Homo sapiens: one gene and its partners. The protein of the gene in region 4 purifies or fractionates together with the protein of the main gene of each other region. This does not show direct contact. Each region holds a gene or a part of one and is shown on either strand. Other genes may lie near its edges.

Region 1 (2,402 bases), on a different chromosome or scaffold from region 4:
AAAAGATCTTCAACCTTTCGGGAGGAGAGAAAACACTTAGTTCATTGGCTTTAGTATTTGCTCTTCACCACTACAAGCCCACTCCCCTTTACTTCATGGATGAGATTGATGCAGCCCTTGATTTTAAAAATGTGTCCATTGTTGCATTTTATATATATGTAAGTAATCATTTTGGGATTTTCATTCCAGAAACTTTTAGGGGTATCCTAAACATTACACATGGAATTCTTTATTTCTTACAATTGAGCTTTTTCTTTATTGTCTAATAACTCCATCTCCATCTCCTCTGGTATCAGTGGAGACCAAATTATTTTTTATTTGAACCAAATATTTCCATTTTGGAGGAGTAAAATATAAATTAAAAATGCAAATTAGTAGCAGAATCACAGCTAGAATCCTAGGTCATCTTCCTAGATCTTTTCCACTAGAAGTCAAAATAACCAAATTCCTTTCACACTCAAATACTGTTTTATGAATTATTCCTGCCATCATTCCTTTACATGTTATCAATGTAATGTTTATTGTCCAAAAAATATTTGAGGTTACATGTTTGTGTGATTTACCTGTTATTACTTAATGTTTGACTTTTCTTTGTTTCTCTTTAGGAACAAACAAAAAATGCACAGTTCATAATAATTTCTCTTCGAAATAATATGTTTGAGATTTCGGATAGACTTATTGGAATTTACAAGACATACAACATAACAAAAAGTGTTGCTGTAAATCCAAAAGAAATTGCATCTAAGGGACTTTGTTGAACTTTATGCTGAAGATTCTTCAAGTTGATTCAGTGTATTACTGATTTTTTTCTATTTGTAAAGGATTATGAGTTGTATAAAATACATACTCCCTAAACTAGATCATGAAACTGGTTTCTGTTTTATGCAGTTGTCATTTGTAAAGTCTAATAAAATATTCTCTATAATTGCTTCTAGATTACAAAAATATGACAATCTTGTAAGTAGCAGACTATGGAGAAAAATGAGTTACCTGGAGGGTCAGGTAACTTGCCAAACTAAAAAGTATGTTAGTTGAGGCAAAGTCCTAAGCAAGGTTGTGCTATCAAGGCTCAGCATACCTTCGTGGGCCTTTGATTTACCAACACTGGAAATGCCTGCCAACTAATCTTGGATAGATTCTTTAAGGCATTCCACTTAGCTTGCCAGTTGAGACAATCACCACAGTTATTACCCAAATACTATGAACATATTTTTGTAAACCAGTCATTCTGAATTATAGTGATGAGAATTTAAATATATGCTTTTCTAGAATTTGATGTTTGACCATTTATGACTTAATTACCAGAGAGCCAGTAAATTAGGACAGTGTTTCAACAAGCCTAGGCTATCTCGTAAGTTGAAAAATATCCCACTATAGTTGCTTCATGAGTATGAAGTAAGATGGCCTCTGATTTACACTGGTTCAATTTACAAATTTTCAACTTTATGATAGGTTTATCCGGGTACTAAATGCATTTCAACTTGATAGTTTCAACTTATGATAGGTTTACCAGGATGTAGTCCCACTGTTGAGGAGCATCTATTTAGGGGTTAATTACTTTAGTAATAAGTGGAAAGTAAGATACCTTGAGTAATGTTTGCCTATAAAATTGTCAGCGTATTTTTACACTATTGGCTCAAGAATGTTATAATGCTAAGGGACATAAGTTGGCAACCACTTGGTTTTTGGAAGGACTTTCGGTATTGTATTAGAAGTCTGCCCTAGCTGTTAAATTTCTGGGTATTTATCCTAAGGAATTAATTAAAGAGTTAATTGTTCCTTTCTTCAGTGGGCCATTGTTTTAGATATTTAAAAAATCCAACAGTTTCTATCATAATGTAACTGTAAAAATGTAAACACATTATTAGCATGGACTTTTAAATAAAGATTTAAAGAAAGCAAGATCGGAAATTCAAGTACGGTAATTTGTTCTAAATCAAGAATATATAAGGGAAAAGTAAGTTTAAAGTGCTATAATGATAATCAAGTGTTTTCATTTGGTGCGAAAATAGAATTTAATACTTTTATTATATTTTAATAACCAATGCAGTAGAGCTCAGATTTTTTTTTTTTTTTTGAAAGTCTCACTGCATCACCCAGGGTGGAGTGCTGTGGCAAGATCTTGGCTCACTGCAACCCTGCCTCACGGGTTCAAGCGATTCAAGTGCCTCAGCCACATGAGTAGCTGGGACTACAGGTGCACACCACAGTGCCCAGCTAATTTTTGTGTTTTTGGTAGACAGGGTTTTGCCATGTTGGCCAAGCTGGTCTCAAACTCCTGGCCTCAAGTGATCTGCCTGCCTCAGCCTCCCAAAGTGCTGGACTATAGGCATGAGCCACTGCACCCAGCCTGCAGTACTAAGTTTCAAAGAATTAGAAGTACCCAGAACCCATGTGAAAAT
Region 2 (3,500 bases), on a different chromosome or scaffold from region 4:
TTATGACTGAGACAGTCAAAGAGATCTAATCTAACCGACTCCATCTTGGTTCTAACCTTTAAGCTGTCATTGTTCGTTCCTGGGTGTAGGCTGAACTAACTTTGGGAGAACTTAGTTTATAGTTTATAGTCTAAAACAAAGACAATAAAAGCCATTTCCCAAACAAACCCCCTTCTTGCCTGGAGACTAGATTGCCTTTGTAGGACTAACAAATTAGCCAAAAGATTAGAAATTATCATTTAGGAGTCATGCAGCTGAAGGCTACAAGATTCTGACCACCACTAAACTGCTCCTAATATCACTGCTTGAGATATTTTGCAGACCCTGCACTTGATGGATCAGCTGGCAACACCCAGATCGATAAATTGGCTCATCTGATCTTGTGGCTCCCACCCAGGAAGTGACTCAGCACAAGAAGACAGCTTTGATTCCCTATGATATCATCTCTGACCTGACCAATCAGCACTCCTGGCTCACTGGCTTCCTCCCACCCACTAAATTGTTCTTAAAAACTCGGATCCGTGAATGCTTGGCGAGACTGATTTGAGTAAAATAAAACTCTGGTCACGTGCACACTCGGCTCTGCGTGAATTACTCTTTCTCTACTGCAATTCCCCTATCTTGATAAATCAGCTCTGTCTAGGCAGTGGGCAAGGTGAACCCTTTGGGCGGTTACAAATATAAGGACACTTCCAGGAACAGTCTGTTACTACACAGGTGTGTATTCCCTCTTTTTTTTTTTGAGACGGAGCCTCGCTTTGCCGCCCAGACTGGAGTGCAGTGGCATGATCTCGGCTCACTGCAACCTCCACCTCCCTGGTTCAAGCAATTCCCCTGCCTCAACCTCCCAAGTAGCTGGGATTACAGGCGCACACCACCACGTCTCGCTAACTTGTTTGTATTTTTAGTAGAGGTGGGGTTTCACCATGTTGGCCAGACTAGTCTCGAACTCCTGACCTCAGGCAATCCGCCTGCTTCAGCCTCCCAAAGTGTTGGGATTACAGGTGAGAGCCACCACGCCCCACCAGGAGTGTATTCTTACACCAATATTCTGCTATACTCTTAGATGAAGAAGGGACAACCCTAGTCAGCTAATAAACTGGCACCCTTCCAAACCTCTACTTAGTATTAGTTGTTTAATCTTTATCTGAAGAAGCTTAGTAGTAATTCACCTCTTTGAGGTTCAACCCCATTCAGAATGGCACAGTAGTTAACTAACATTAACTGAATCCACCCTCCTTAAAATGACAGTTTGATAATCATCTTTTGTTATTCAAAATTATGTGTCTTAGCTCACCTCCCAAAAGGATTAATAAAGTACGGTATTCTTTCCAACCACATTCTAATCTCTTTCTGAGAGGAGTTCTGGTAAGTGCAACTTTCTCCATCTCTTTACATTTATGAGTCTGAAGTTTCCACATGTCTGGGAATTTCGGGACTGGCCCCGCCGCCCCACCACCCCACCATAGTCTGGTTGCTCAGATAGTTAACTGCTCAACTACTTACTCCAAGTTTATCATAAGTCCCTTTGAAAGAAAAAGCTAGGAAATAAAAGACGGGAATTTTATTGCGTATATACCTCAAGCCTCAAAGCAAAGAAGGCTGTAACTGAATTTTAAGACAAAATATAGCTATTTCTTCTTTTTCCAGTTAAAAAGCAATTAATAGGACAAATACAAATATCTATGAATATAGAACTATTTAAGCAATATTTAAAAACTAAAATATCCAAACAATTACAAATAGCCCACTTATTAGCATGTAAGCAGAACTGACCTGTTCATATGAAATCTAGCTACTGCTATTAATAAAACAGTGTAGCATAATAAATGAATTTCAATTACAATGAAAATGTGGTGTTACAGACTATGAAATTTTTGCATATTAAAACAACTTTTTTGGTTGGGCACAGTGACTCACACCTGTAATCCCAATACTTTGGGAGGCTGAGGCAGGTAGATTACTTGAGATTAGGAGTTCGAGACCAGCCTGGCCAACATAGTGAAAGCCCGTCTCTACTGAAAATACAAAAATTAGCCGGGCATGGTGGTGTGTGCCTGTAATCCCAGCTACTCGGGAGGCTGAGGCAGGAGAATCGCTTGAACCCAGGAGATGGAGGTTGCAGTGAGCCGAGATCATGCTACTGCACTCCAGCCTAGGCAATAGAGTGAGACACCATCTCAAACTAACAAGCAAACAAAAAACACTTATTTTCTCCTAAATAACAACAAAGAACCAAAAAAACAAAACAAACCCTTGCATCTTTCTGAAACTATTAGGACCACGGACACTTCTACCTCAGCCCATATCTATCAGCTCACATCCTGGAATCTCTCAAAATCCTCCTCTAGGTTTTCTTGGGGTTTCATTTTTGTTTTTGTTTTTCTTGTGGAGAAGGGTTTTCTCTATGTTGCCCAGGCTGGTCTCAAACTCCTGAACTCAAGCGATCCTCCCACACTGGCCTCCCAAAGTGTTGGGATTAAAGGTGTAAGCCAAGGAGCCTGGCTCTCCTCTAGTTTTTAAATTAACCTTTTGACAAAATGAAGCTTACCTACTGGCTCTCCATCACTTTCTGGATTCTCTTCTTTAGTGAAGACTTCAGCCTGTGGTTCCAGCTGAGGAAGTGGTTTCAGTACATCAACATTCATCGGGCCATTTCGTAATCGTTGTTTCAGTAGAGAAACCTAATATAAATGTGCTTCATTAGAAAAAAGTCAAAAAAAACTATGGGAGTAGTACAATTGTCCCTTGGTATCTGTGGGGGATTGGTTCCAGGATTCCCTGTTAATACCAAAATCCGCAGGAGCTCAAGTCCATTATATAAAATGGTGTAGTATTTGCATATAGCCTACACACATCCTCCAGTATAATTTAAATCATCCCTAGATTACATAAACTACCTAAATAATGAAAATGCTATGCAAGTAGTTGTTGTACTACATATATTTTAGAAAATAATGAGAAGAAAAAAAGTCTACATGTTCACTACACATGGTTTTCACCCCCTAAATATTTCTGATCCAGTTGGTTGAATCCACACATACAAAAACACATCAATGTGGATGGCTTATTGTACTTTATTTAAAACAGAGAGAGGACGGATTAAATGATATTCTTCTTACTAAAGTGGGGGAAAATAATCAAAATAAAAAGTTTACTCCCAATACAGCTGGTTTTTATATTTGCTATTATTATTATGCAGTTAGTCAAAAGATACAATAAATAAAAAAGTATCCTTAACATTAACTGAAGAGCTAGGAGTGGTGGCTCATGCCTATAATCCCAACACTTTGGGAGGCCAAGGCGGAAGGATCGCTTGAGCCCAGGGGTTTGAGACCAGCCTGGGCGACATAGTGAGACCCCATCTCTACAAAAAATTTAAAAATTAGCTGGGCGTGGTGGCATATGCCTGTATTCCCAGCCACTCTGGAGGCAGAGGCTGGAGGATTGCTAGAGCCCAGGAATTTGAGATTGCAGTTAAGCTATGATCACGCCACTGC
Region 3 (3,500 bases), on a different chromosome or scaffold from region 4:
CTGCCTCCTCATCTGGCCAGGGCTCAGATATCCTTTGTGCCCTGCTCTCCTGGTGAGTCCCGTTTTCTGGAGGCCTGGTGAATACCATTCCCTCTGTCTAGGGGGATCCCGAAAGAACTTTCCTTGTTTCCTTGCACAACAGCCTGAAGCAGTTTGAAGCTGTGGGTCACCTTAGAGATGGGCCTTTGTTTTCTTTCACTTGTGTACTTGAGGGTGTGCAGAAGAGTGACTCAGTTGCCTGTAGGTAACACCTGGCTCTCTGGATCTTACTGAAGAACTAAAAGAGACTCTGAGCAACTCAGTGAAGATTGACTCTGGCCAGGCACGGTGGGAGATGCCTGTAATCCCACTGCTTTGGGAGGCTGAGATGGGAGGATTGGTTGAGGCCAGGGGTTCGAGACCAGTCTGGACAACATAGGGAGATCCTGGCTCTACAAAAAATTAGCCGGATGTGGTGGTACTTGCCTATAGTCCCAGCTACTCAAGAGGCCGAAGTGAGAGAATTGCCTGAGCCCAGGAGTTTGAAGCTGCAATGAGCTGTGATTGCACCACTGCACTCCAGCCTGGATGACAAGCAAGACCTTGTCTCTACCTAAATAATCAACCCTGTACTTCTTACCCTTAGGCACCCCCAAGCCCTCTAAGATTCTCTAGCAGATACTTTATTTTCCAAGCAAGCCTTCAAGCATAGGATGTTTTTTTTTTCTTATTGCTCCTGAAAGGCTTTTCTCTCTCTAAGCAAAAATCTCTGCAGTGTTTGTTCCCTGCTATCTGCAGTCAAAAATCTTTCGTTTGATAGAGCTTAAAATCTTGGCACTTTGTAAATAGGTAGAGAAATCAGATTAATATGAGTTTACTTATTTTATATATATATATATATATATATATATATATATATATATAATTTTTTTTTTTTTGAGACGGAGTCTTATTTTGTCACCCAGGTTGGAGTGCAGTAGCACAATCCTGGCTCACTGCAGTCTCTGCCTACCGGGTTCAAGAAATTTTCCTGCCTCAGCCTCCTGAGTAGCTAGGATTTCAAGTGTGCACCACCACGCCTGGCTAATTTTTGTATTTTTAGTAGAGATGGGGTTTTGCCATGTTGCCCAGGATGGTCTCAAACTCCTGACCTCAAGTGATCCACCTGTGTTGGCCTCCCAAAGTGTTGGGATTACAGGCGTGAGCCACTGTGCCTGGCCTGATACGAATTAAGTGTAAAGATTGATCATGGTTGGGAAGATGAGACCTTAAATGGGAAAAGGACAAAGACTGTTTGTTTGCATGTGTTCAGAATGGTGTATGGTCAAGTACTAGTTGACTGTCTCCTATCTTGGCCAAGTCTCACATCAGCTAATATCTTAACTTGAGACATGTCATTGGTAGATAATTATTTCTATTCATTGATATAATAAAAATTTGCTATCTTTTAAGAAAATGAACCAGCAGAATTCTTACCTCAGTTCCTTATAATCTGATTAAGGTTTGAAAAAGTTTCATTAAAAAGATGTAAAATAAAATCACAATAACATTAGGCATCAGAGAAGGTTTATTTGATCTTTTAAAAAATAATGTGTTATTGACAGTGAGTGATGATTTTTGAGATTCGAATAAACTGTGGCCTGTTGACTGAGGCTGCCATATAATCTTTTACAATTTCACACCCCTCCCTGACCATGCTGCATGGTCATATTCTGGCACCTTCCATTCCTTTGTTTTTCTTTTCTTTTCTGTCCATCGTCATTTTCTTCAGTGCCTTCAGGGTTTAAAATGATTGTTTAAAAGTCCGCAGTATTTACCGAGTGTTTCATCACTTCATCCTATCAGGAATCTGAGTATTTGTCCTTTACCTCTTGTCAGGGCTGAGGGAGGAAGACGGCATGGTTACATGGGACACCTAACGAGGATAGCTAACTGTATCGTGCACAGCACTGACAAGGGCCCCAACAGTGCATTAGTGCAGCAGCTTATCAAAGGTAAGTTATTTGTGAAATTTGAATTACATTTTTGTTGGGTTGCAGGAAGGATTTAAGGGTCAAGTAGAAATGCATGTAGCATTTTTAATAGTGATTTGTGGGACTTCTTTATATTTGGCAAATTATGTATTTGAATGAGGTTCTTGAGAATGTGTTTGAACAGTGTTGTTTTTTGGTTGTATTTATGTTCATGTAGTTACAGACCATTCCATAAGCATTGGCAGGCTTGGCTGGATTCAGCATATAAGAGTCACCTATTGTCATTCTTAAAGAGCATTGCTTGGTGAATCATGCTTTTGAGTATTGTGAGTGTGAAGTACTCATATGCTAGCAGTTGAGCCACTTCAGCTATAATTTTGCCTTTTATTTTCTGAAGGCCTCTATATAGCCTCTGAATTAAGTTTCTTTAACTGGAATATTAGGGCATTTATCAGCATTTCTTTGATGTCGCTGTCACTAAAATGAGGGGTATTGGCTTCTAAAGGACTCTTTCTGTATAGCATTTCAGTTTAATCAGCCCAAGCTTATTTGGAAGAAACTATATGGATGCTTTTTTACACTGGCCCCAAGCCATGAGCCTTCTTCTAAAATGAGAGAACTGTGTACTCTGGGTTTTTGTACCAACAGGATTACCAATCCTGAGACCTATTCTGAATGTGAACAGTCTTTAACATCCATGGTACAGAATTTGTTCAGTTAAAATCATTTCCCAGTGGGTCTTCCATTTTTTCTTAAGAATGTTTGTTTGTTCAAGAGGCTATTCCCTGTTGAATGTGCACTAAAACCACAGTTGTCACCAGGGATGGAAAAAGTGGTGTGTGCCCACTTCTAATTTTGCTTCTTGAGAGAGGCATAAGAGGTATAAGCCTCTTCCTTGGGCCATTTCACCACACAGTTTATCTTTATGTCCTAACTAAGAAGAAATGGCCATGTGATATGACTGAGTTTTTAGATCAGACTTTCCTTTATGGAAGCTGCTTGCCAGGTGGTACATGTGTACACTTCTGTGAGTGTGCACACATGCATGGCTGTTTTAAACCAGAATTATCAGATGACTAGTTAGGCCTCTAAAATTACGTCATGGTTTGATTTTCTCAGAAAAGCAGTTGTTTATCCTTTTCTTTAACATTTCTCTAGAAGGTAGAATTTCACTATTACCTGTGTATCCACGTTGGCCCATGACACAAATATTTAGGAAACATGATCTTAGAGCAATTTGAAAAGCCATACTAGGTTCTGTGGAACATTCATTGGCCAGCTGCCAATGAGAGCATTTCAAGAAAGTGTGCAGGAGCTGTCATTTGCAGCATTTTCTAGACTTAACTTGACCATGGAAAAAGATCCCCCTACCCCCGACACGTTAAACACCTACCACCTTTCTCAGAAAAGCTTGTTGGAAACACACTTTCCAGGTTAAGCTTCTACCAGAGCATTTTCAGAAACTTGTTAAGTTCACAAGCTACCTTAGGGCTCTTGGCCTCATCAAGCCTATACCATTGGGTAGGGGGATTCTGGTTCCTGAAAGTC
Region 4 (5,763 bases):
TGACAGCTTTGTCCTGTCTCTTCTCTCTAGAGACGCAGGAGTGCGAGTGATCATAAGTGAGACTGATTAGACTGGCCTCTTTATTTAAAATAGAGCCATGTTTGTAGTACCAGCTTTCTGTGATGCACTGGCAGTTGCTCCTCCTCCTCGCTGCCCGGAGATCGCTTTTTGTCAGTAGTCTGAGGTAATGAGGCCCTGACGACTGAGTCATTCCAAATTTTAACTAAAAATCAAGCAAGACTGGGAATCGACCGAGACTGCCAGCTTATTGCCCTACAGGGAGAAGTATCACTGTCACCAAACTCCAGGCAGTTAGTGAATTCTCTCTCTGGTCCGGCTTCAGGAGGAGCTGCCTGTAAAGAGGGGCCGTCTTTGTGACTTACAGTCACCGTCATGGGGTCTCTGTTCTGGAGAGGTGGGCTGCTTGGACACCAGCAGGGGAATTAAGTGAGCAGAATCTGTGATTGCACTGGACTCAGCTCGGTGCGGTTGGCTGTCACCATGTTGGCGTGCCCTCTCGGTGGAACCTGAGCGTCTTTGGCTGTGTTCCTTCTTGGTCAGTGTAAGGCCCAGGCGTCGTCACTGTGGGCCTCTGCAGCAGTTCTCCTCTGCAGCAGTTCTCCTCTGCATGTTCCACCTGTAATGGCTGAGTCCAGTCCTGCTGGTCATCCCATCCTTCCTTCTGTTCAGGTGGTGGTGCCTGTCTGGGCCGTGGCCGTGATGCTGCTCTTCCAGTTTCTTTTTTTTTTTTTTTTTTGGAGAATGAGAAAATAACTTTATTTCATTGTGGGGAGCGGGCTGATGTCCAGCCTCAGAACTTCTGGAACTGCTTCTTGGTGCTGGCAGCCTTGGTGACCTGGAGCACGTTGAGGTGCACTGTCTTGCTCAGAGGCCGGCAAGGCCGGCACTCGCCCACTGTGACGATGTCACCGATCTGGACGTCCCTGAAGCAGGGGAACAGGTGTACAGACATGTTCTTGTGGTGCTTCTCGAAGTGGTTGTACTTGCGGATGTAGTGCAGGTAGTCTCGGCGGATGACAGTGGTCCTCTGCGTCTTCATCTTGGTCACCACGCCAGAGAGGATCCGCCCTCGAATGGAGACATCACCAGTGAAGGGGCATTTCTTGTCAATGTAGGTGCCCTCAGTAGCCTCTTTGGGTGTCTTGAAGCCCAGACCAATGTTCTTGTAGTACCGCAGGAGCTTCTCCTTGCCAGTTTCTCCCAGCAGGACCCTCTTCTTGTTTTGAAAGATGGTCGGCTGCTTTTGGTAGGCACGCTCAGTCTGAATGTCCGCCATCTTCCCGGCCACTGAAAAAAGGTGCTCTTCCAGTTTCTAACTCCCTGGACTCCCTCATTGGAACTGAAGCTCACAGATGTTTCAGCTGGACTAGTTTAGACTTTGCTGTATTTTAAAAGGCAGTGTTGATGCTCCAGGATTCAAATACTTAATCATTTTGTTTTGGAACCATTAGCTTTGTAGCAGAGGAATGTACTCAGCAGAATCAGCAGAACTGAAGATTTAATTCGGCAAATTAAACCTGTGTTGGCACTTTAGGAGTTGGGAGTGTTCAAGGTGGTGGGAGGCAGACGGGGAATGAGTCTCTGTCTTCAAGGATCTCGCCATGTAATGGGCACACACGCAATGGCAGACATGACGTGCTGTGGTGGAGGCCACGTGAGGTACAGTGATGGCAGAGGGGGTAGACGAGACACTTTACCTGCGGGGCCAGGAGGGTCTGCACGCGCAGGCACACACCGTCGGTTCCTTTACCTGAGGGGCCAGGAGGGTCTGCACGCGTAGGCACACACGGTCGGTTCCATATAATCACCCCACCCCCGCAAGGCAGAAGCAAAGACATCACAAAGCAAAACGCAAGTTTTCTTTTGCTAGGAAATTTTCAAGAGGACCAGATGTACAGGGTACCAGTATTCAGTGGCGCAGTCGAGTCCACATTCCACCGCGTGTAGTCCTCCGTGCCAGTTTGTAATTCATCTGTCAAAGGGGCAAGCCTGTGATAAGCAGCCATCATTTTGCTGATGCTCCTCCCCTTGTTTTGTGGGTGTCTTCTCCATTCCCAGGTGGGCGTGGCCGGCTGACCCCCAGTTCTCTTGGAGTGTGTCTGGGATTGTAGCTGAGGGGCAGGCTTGGTGGAGATCGCAGTGTTTTTCCTGGAAAGTGATTTTCAGAGGGTTCTGTGCTGTGTGTAAGGACAGGTGTGTAGTTCAGATCCCTGCCTAGGCTCTAAGGCCCATTTATCACCCACCCACCCGGAAAATCCAGGGATGAGAGATGTTACTAGATGATCATAGACGCAAACATGAGATTGAGAATTCGTTGCACACAGGATTAGCTTTTGACCAGCCTTGGTAACTTCCTTCACTTCTGTGCTTCAGACATTGCTTTAATCTTTAAATATTTTTATGTGCCAGGCACCCTGAGTCAAGACATCTAGGATCCTTTGTTTACAGTAGTTTCTTGATTAGCTATGCGAGATTTATAGTTACTAATGTTAGGACACATTTCTATTCACAGTGCTTTCTGGTTACAAACCCTTAATGCTAGTTTTACACTAATAGCATACGTAACCTTTTAATATTCTGAACAACACTGTTATGAACTCATAACTGTCTCTGGCCTGTAGGATGCAAGGTGGCAGAGAGGAATGGTGGATTATTATAGTTATGAGCAGATACTCACAGGTCTGCACGCCCTTCAGTGAGTCATTGACTGTGTCAGTGGACTGGGTTACACCCACCACCCATAGGTTTCCTCTTTTACGGGTGACCAGTCTAGATGGCAGGTAGAGTAAAAACCCCTAGAAAGACAGGCACGTCCTGCTGCGGGGTCAGTGACACACATGCTCTCGAGGACCAGCCACGTGGGCTTCTCTTTTTTTTGTTGTTTTTTGTTTTTTGAGATGGAGTTTTGTGCTTGTCTCCCAGGCTGGAGTGCAGTGGCACAATTTTGGCTCACGCAACCTCTGTCTCCCAGGTTCAAGCGATGTTCCTGCCTTAGCCTCCTGAGTAGCTGGGATTACAGGCACGCGCTGCCATGCCTGGCTAATTTTTGTATTTTTAGTAGAGACGAGGTTTCACCTTGTTGGCCAGGCTGGTCTTGAAATTCTGACCTCAAGTGATCCACCCACCTTGACCCCCCAAAGTTATGGGATTACAGGCATGAGCCATCACACGCAGCCCTTTTTTTTTTTTAGACGGAGTTTCCACTCTTGTTGCCCAGGCTGGAGTGCAATGGCGTGGTCTTGGTTCAGTGCAACCTCCGCCTCCCAGGTTCAAGTGATTCTCCTGCCTCAGGCTCCCAAGTAGCTGGGATTACAGGCGCCTGCCACCACGCCTGGCTAGTTTTTTGTATTTTTAGTAGAGATGGGGTTTCACCATGTTGGCCAGGCTGGTCTCAAACTCCTGACCGCAGGTGATCCGCCCGCCTTGGCCTCCCAAAGTGCTGGGATTACAAGCATGAGCCACCGCACCCGGCCCCATGTGGGCTTCTTGTCTATACCTTCTGTGTGGGATTTGTAAGCTAGAGGCGAAGGTTGTGTAATGTTTCTCATGAAAAATGTTAAACACAGAACATAATGTAGGTTAATATGAAACTGATTTTAAAGGAATAAATGCCAACATTTCTGCAGAATGAATGGAAGCTCATGCTAGTGTCTTACCTGTTGATAAGGAAATGAGTTAATAATATCACCAGCACATTTCAGGGTGGATAATCACTTGCCAAATGTTGGGCAAAGTTTTGCTCCCCTGAATGTAGCCCGGCAGGGCAGGCTGAGAGAGCTAACCCAGCTAGAGGTAAAGACGGGAACGGGCCCTGCCGTGAGATGCCCTTTCTGTGCCCCCACTCCAAGGCAGCTGCCTTTCTGGTGTCCTTGTACACCCTGTATAGAGTTACCACATCCCATGGCACCTGCTTTTTAAAGTTTTGTTTCTCTGGATCTGAGTTGTCCAACCTGAAGGGGTGGGGCTGCCGGCAGGAGCCGTGGCCTTGGGCAGAGTCACTCACTAGCTGAGAGGGGGGCCTGTGAGTCTGGTATTGTAATTTTTAAATTGTTTTTGAGATGGGGTCTCCCTCTGTCACCCAGGCTGCAGTGCAGTGGTGCGATCTCAGCTCACTGCAACCTCCGCCTCCCGGTTTCAAGTGACTCTCCTGCCTCAGCCTCCCGAGTAGCTGGGATTACAGGTGTTCACCACCACACCCGGCTATTTTTTGTATTTTTAGTAGAGGTGGGGGTTTCACCATGTTGGCCAGGCTGGTCTTGAACTCCTGACCTCAGGTGATCTGCCTGCCTCGGCCTCCCAAAGTGCTGGGATTACAGGGGTGAGCCACCGCGCCTGGCCCAAATTAATTTTAAATAAAATTTAAAGCTCAGTTGCCCTGTGTGACACCTACTCCACAGATTCAGAGCTGCGCTGTCCCAGCAGAATGTTCTTTAGTTGGCACCGATACAGACATTAAGCTCCTTCAGGAAAGGGCCCAGTGTGGCTGGGTCAGCATCTTAGCCTCAAAACCTAGGATGTTGTGGGTGCTCCAGGATTATTTGCTGAATGAAAAAGTTTGTATTTGTTTCTTGTACGTATGCAAATTGGGAACCAAATGCTAATTTTGTAATTGATACTTGAAATCTGACAAGTTTCATAATACATTTTGTCTCTCTCTCCTGTCAGGTATCATGATATTAGCTGGTTTGACATCAAGTCATTTGTGAGTCATCAGATCTTCTCCTGAAAATGGGAGACACAGTAGGGCCCCTCCCAGGAGCTCTTGGCTGTTGCTGATGGCAGAAGCCAAGCTTGTCCAAGGTTCACTTGTAGCCCCTCAGCGTCAGCTCAGCTGGTGTCGTCCTGACCATGGACGGCGCGTCGGCCGAGCAAGATGGCCTCCAGGAGGACAGATCCCACAGTGGCCCCTCGTCTCTCCCCGAGGCCCCACTGAAGCCCCCGGGCCCACTGGTGCCACCTGACCAGCAGGACAAAGTCCAGTGTAAGTCGTGAGGTTCCTCTGTGTGCTGGTCACAGGAGGACCTGGTGTTGAGGGAGGACGTGGTGTTGAGGGAGGATGTGGCGTTGAGACCACTGTGAGCTTTTCACTTAATTCAAAGTTGTTTTTTTTTTTTTTTTTTTTTGAGACGGAGTCTCGCTCTTTCGCCCAGGCTGGACTGCAGTGGCGTGATCTCGGCTCGCTGCAAGCTCCGCCTCCCGGGTTCATGCCATTCTCTTGCCCCAGCCTCCTGAGTAGCTGGGATTACAGGCGCCCGCCACCGCGCCCGGCTAATTTTTTGTATTTTTAGTAGAGACGGGGTTTCACCGTGTTAGCCAAGATGGTCTCGATCTCCTGACTTCGTGATCCGCCCGCCTCAGCCTCAGCCTCAAAGTGCTGGGATTACAGGTGTGAGCCACTGTGCCCGGCCCAAAGTATGTTTTAGTAACTGAATGATGCCACCTTTAGATCAGGCACATTCCTGCTAAACAGAACTCCATTAAACGTGTGGGGCAGCAGCAGTGTTTCCCTGAAGGGATCTATGGGTCTTTATCATGTTCCCTGCCTAAAATTCTACCTTTTTTTTTTTTCGACGTGGAGTTTTGCTCTGGGTGCCCGGGCTGGAGTGCAATGGCGAGATCTCGTTTCACTGCAACCTCCACTTCCCGGGTTCAAGCAATTCTTCTGCCTCAGCCTCCCGAGTAGCTGGGATTACAGGCATGCGCTACCACGCCCAGCTATTTTTTGTATTTTTAGTAGAGATG

Evidence for each region.
Region 1: the proteins of GOLGA3 (region 4) and SMC4 fractionate together in Homo sapiens (co-fractionation; one large-scale study listed by BioGRID). This does not show direct contact.
Region 2: the proteins of GOLGA3 (region 4) and GOLGA4 fractionate together in Homo sapiens (co-fractionation; one large-scale study listed by BioGRID). This does not show direct contact.
Region 3: the proteins of GOLGA3 (region 4) and PPP6R3 fractionate together in Homo sapiens (co-fractionation; one large-scale study listed by BioGRID). This does not show direct contact.

The regions. Positions count from the first base shown.
Region 1 is NC_000003.12:160,433,052-160,435,453, forward strand, and holds the end of SMC4 (structural maintenance of chromosomes protein 4), read left to right. Parts: coding exon 1-158; intron 159-605; coding exon 606-758; 3' UTR 759-1,902; downstream 1,903-2,402. UniProt on the Homo sapiens protein: Central component of the condensin complex, a complex required for conversion of interphase chromatin into mitotic-like condense chromosomes.
Region 2 is NC_000003.12:37,295,271-37,298,770, reverse strand, and holds part of GOLGA4 (golgin subfamily A member 4), read right to left. Parts: intron 2,685-3,500; coding exon 2,552-2,684; intron 1-2,551. UniProt on the Homo sapiens protein: Involved in vesicular trafficking at the Golgi apparatus level. May play a role in delivery of transport vesicles containing GPI-linked proteins from the trans-Golgi network through its interaction with MACF1. Involved in endosome-to-Golgi trafficking.
Region 3 is NC_000011.10:68,572,252-68,575,751, forward strand, and holds part of PPP6R3 (serine/threonine-protein phosphatase 6 regulatory subunit 3), read left to right. Parts: intron 1-1,857; coding exon 1,858-1,973; intron 1,974-3,500.
Region 4 is NC_000012.12:132,821,235-132,826,997, reverse strand, and holds part of GOLGA3 (golgin subfamily A member 3), read left to right. Parts: intron 1-760; exon of another isoform or gene 761-1,317; intron 1,318-1,891; exon of another isoform or gene 1,892-2,079; intron 2,080-4,686; 5' UTR 4,687-4,869; coding exon 4,870-5,002; intron 5,003-5,763. UniProt on the Homo sapiens protein: Golgi auto-antigen; probably involved in maintaining Golgi structure.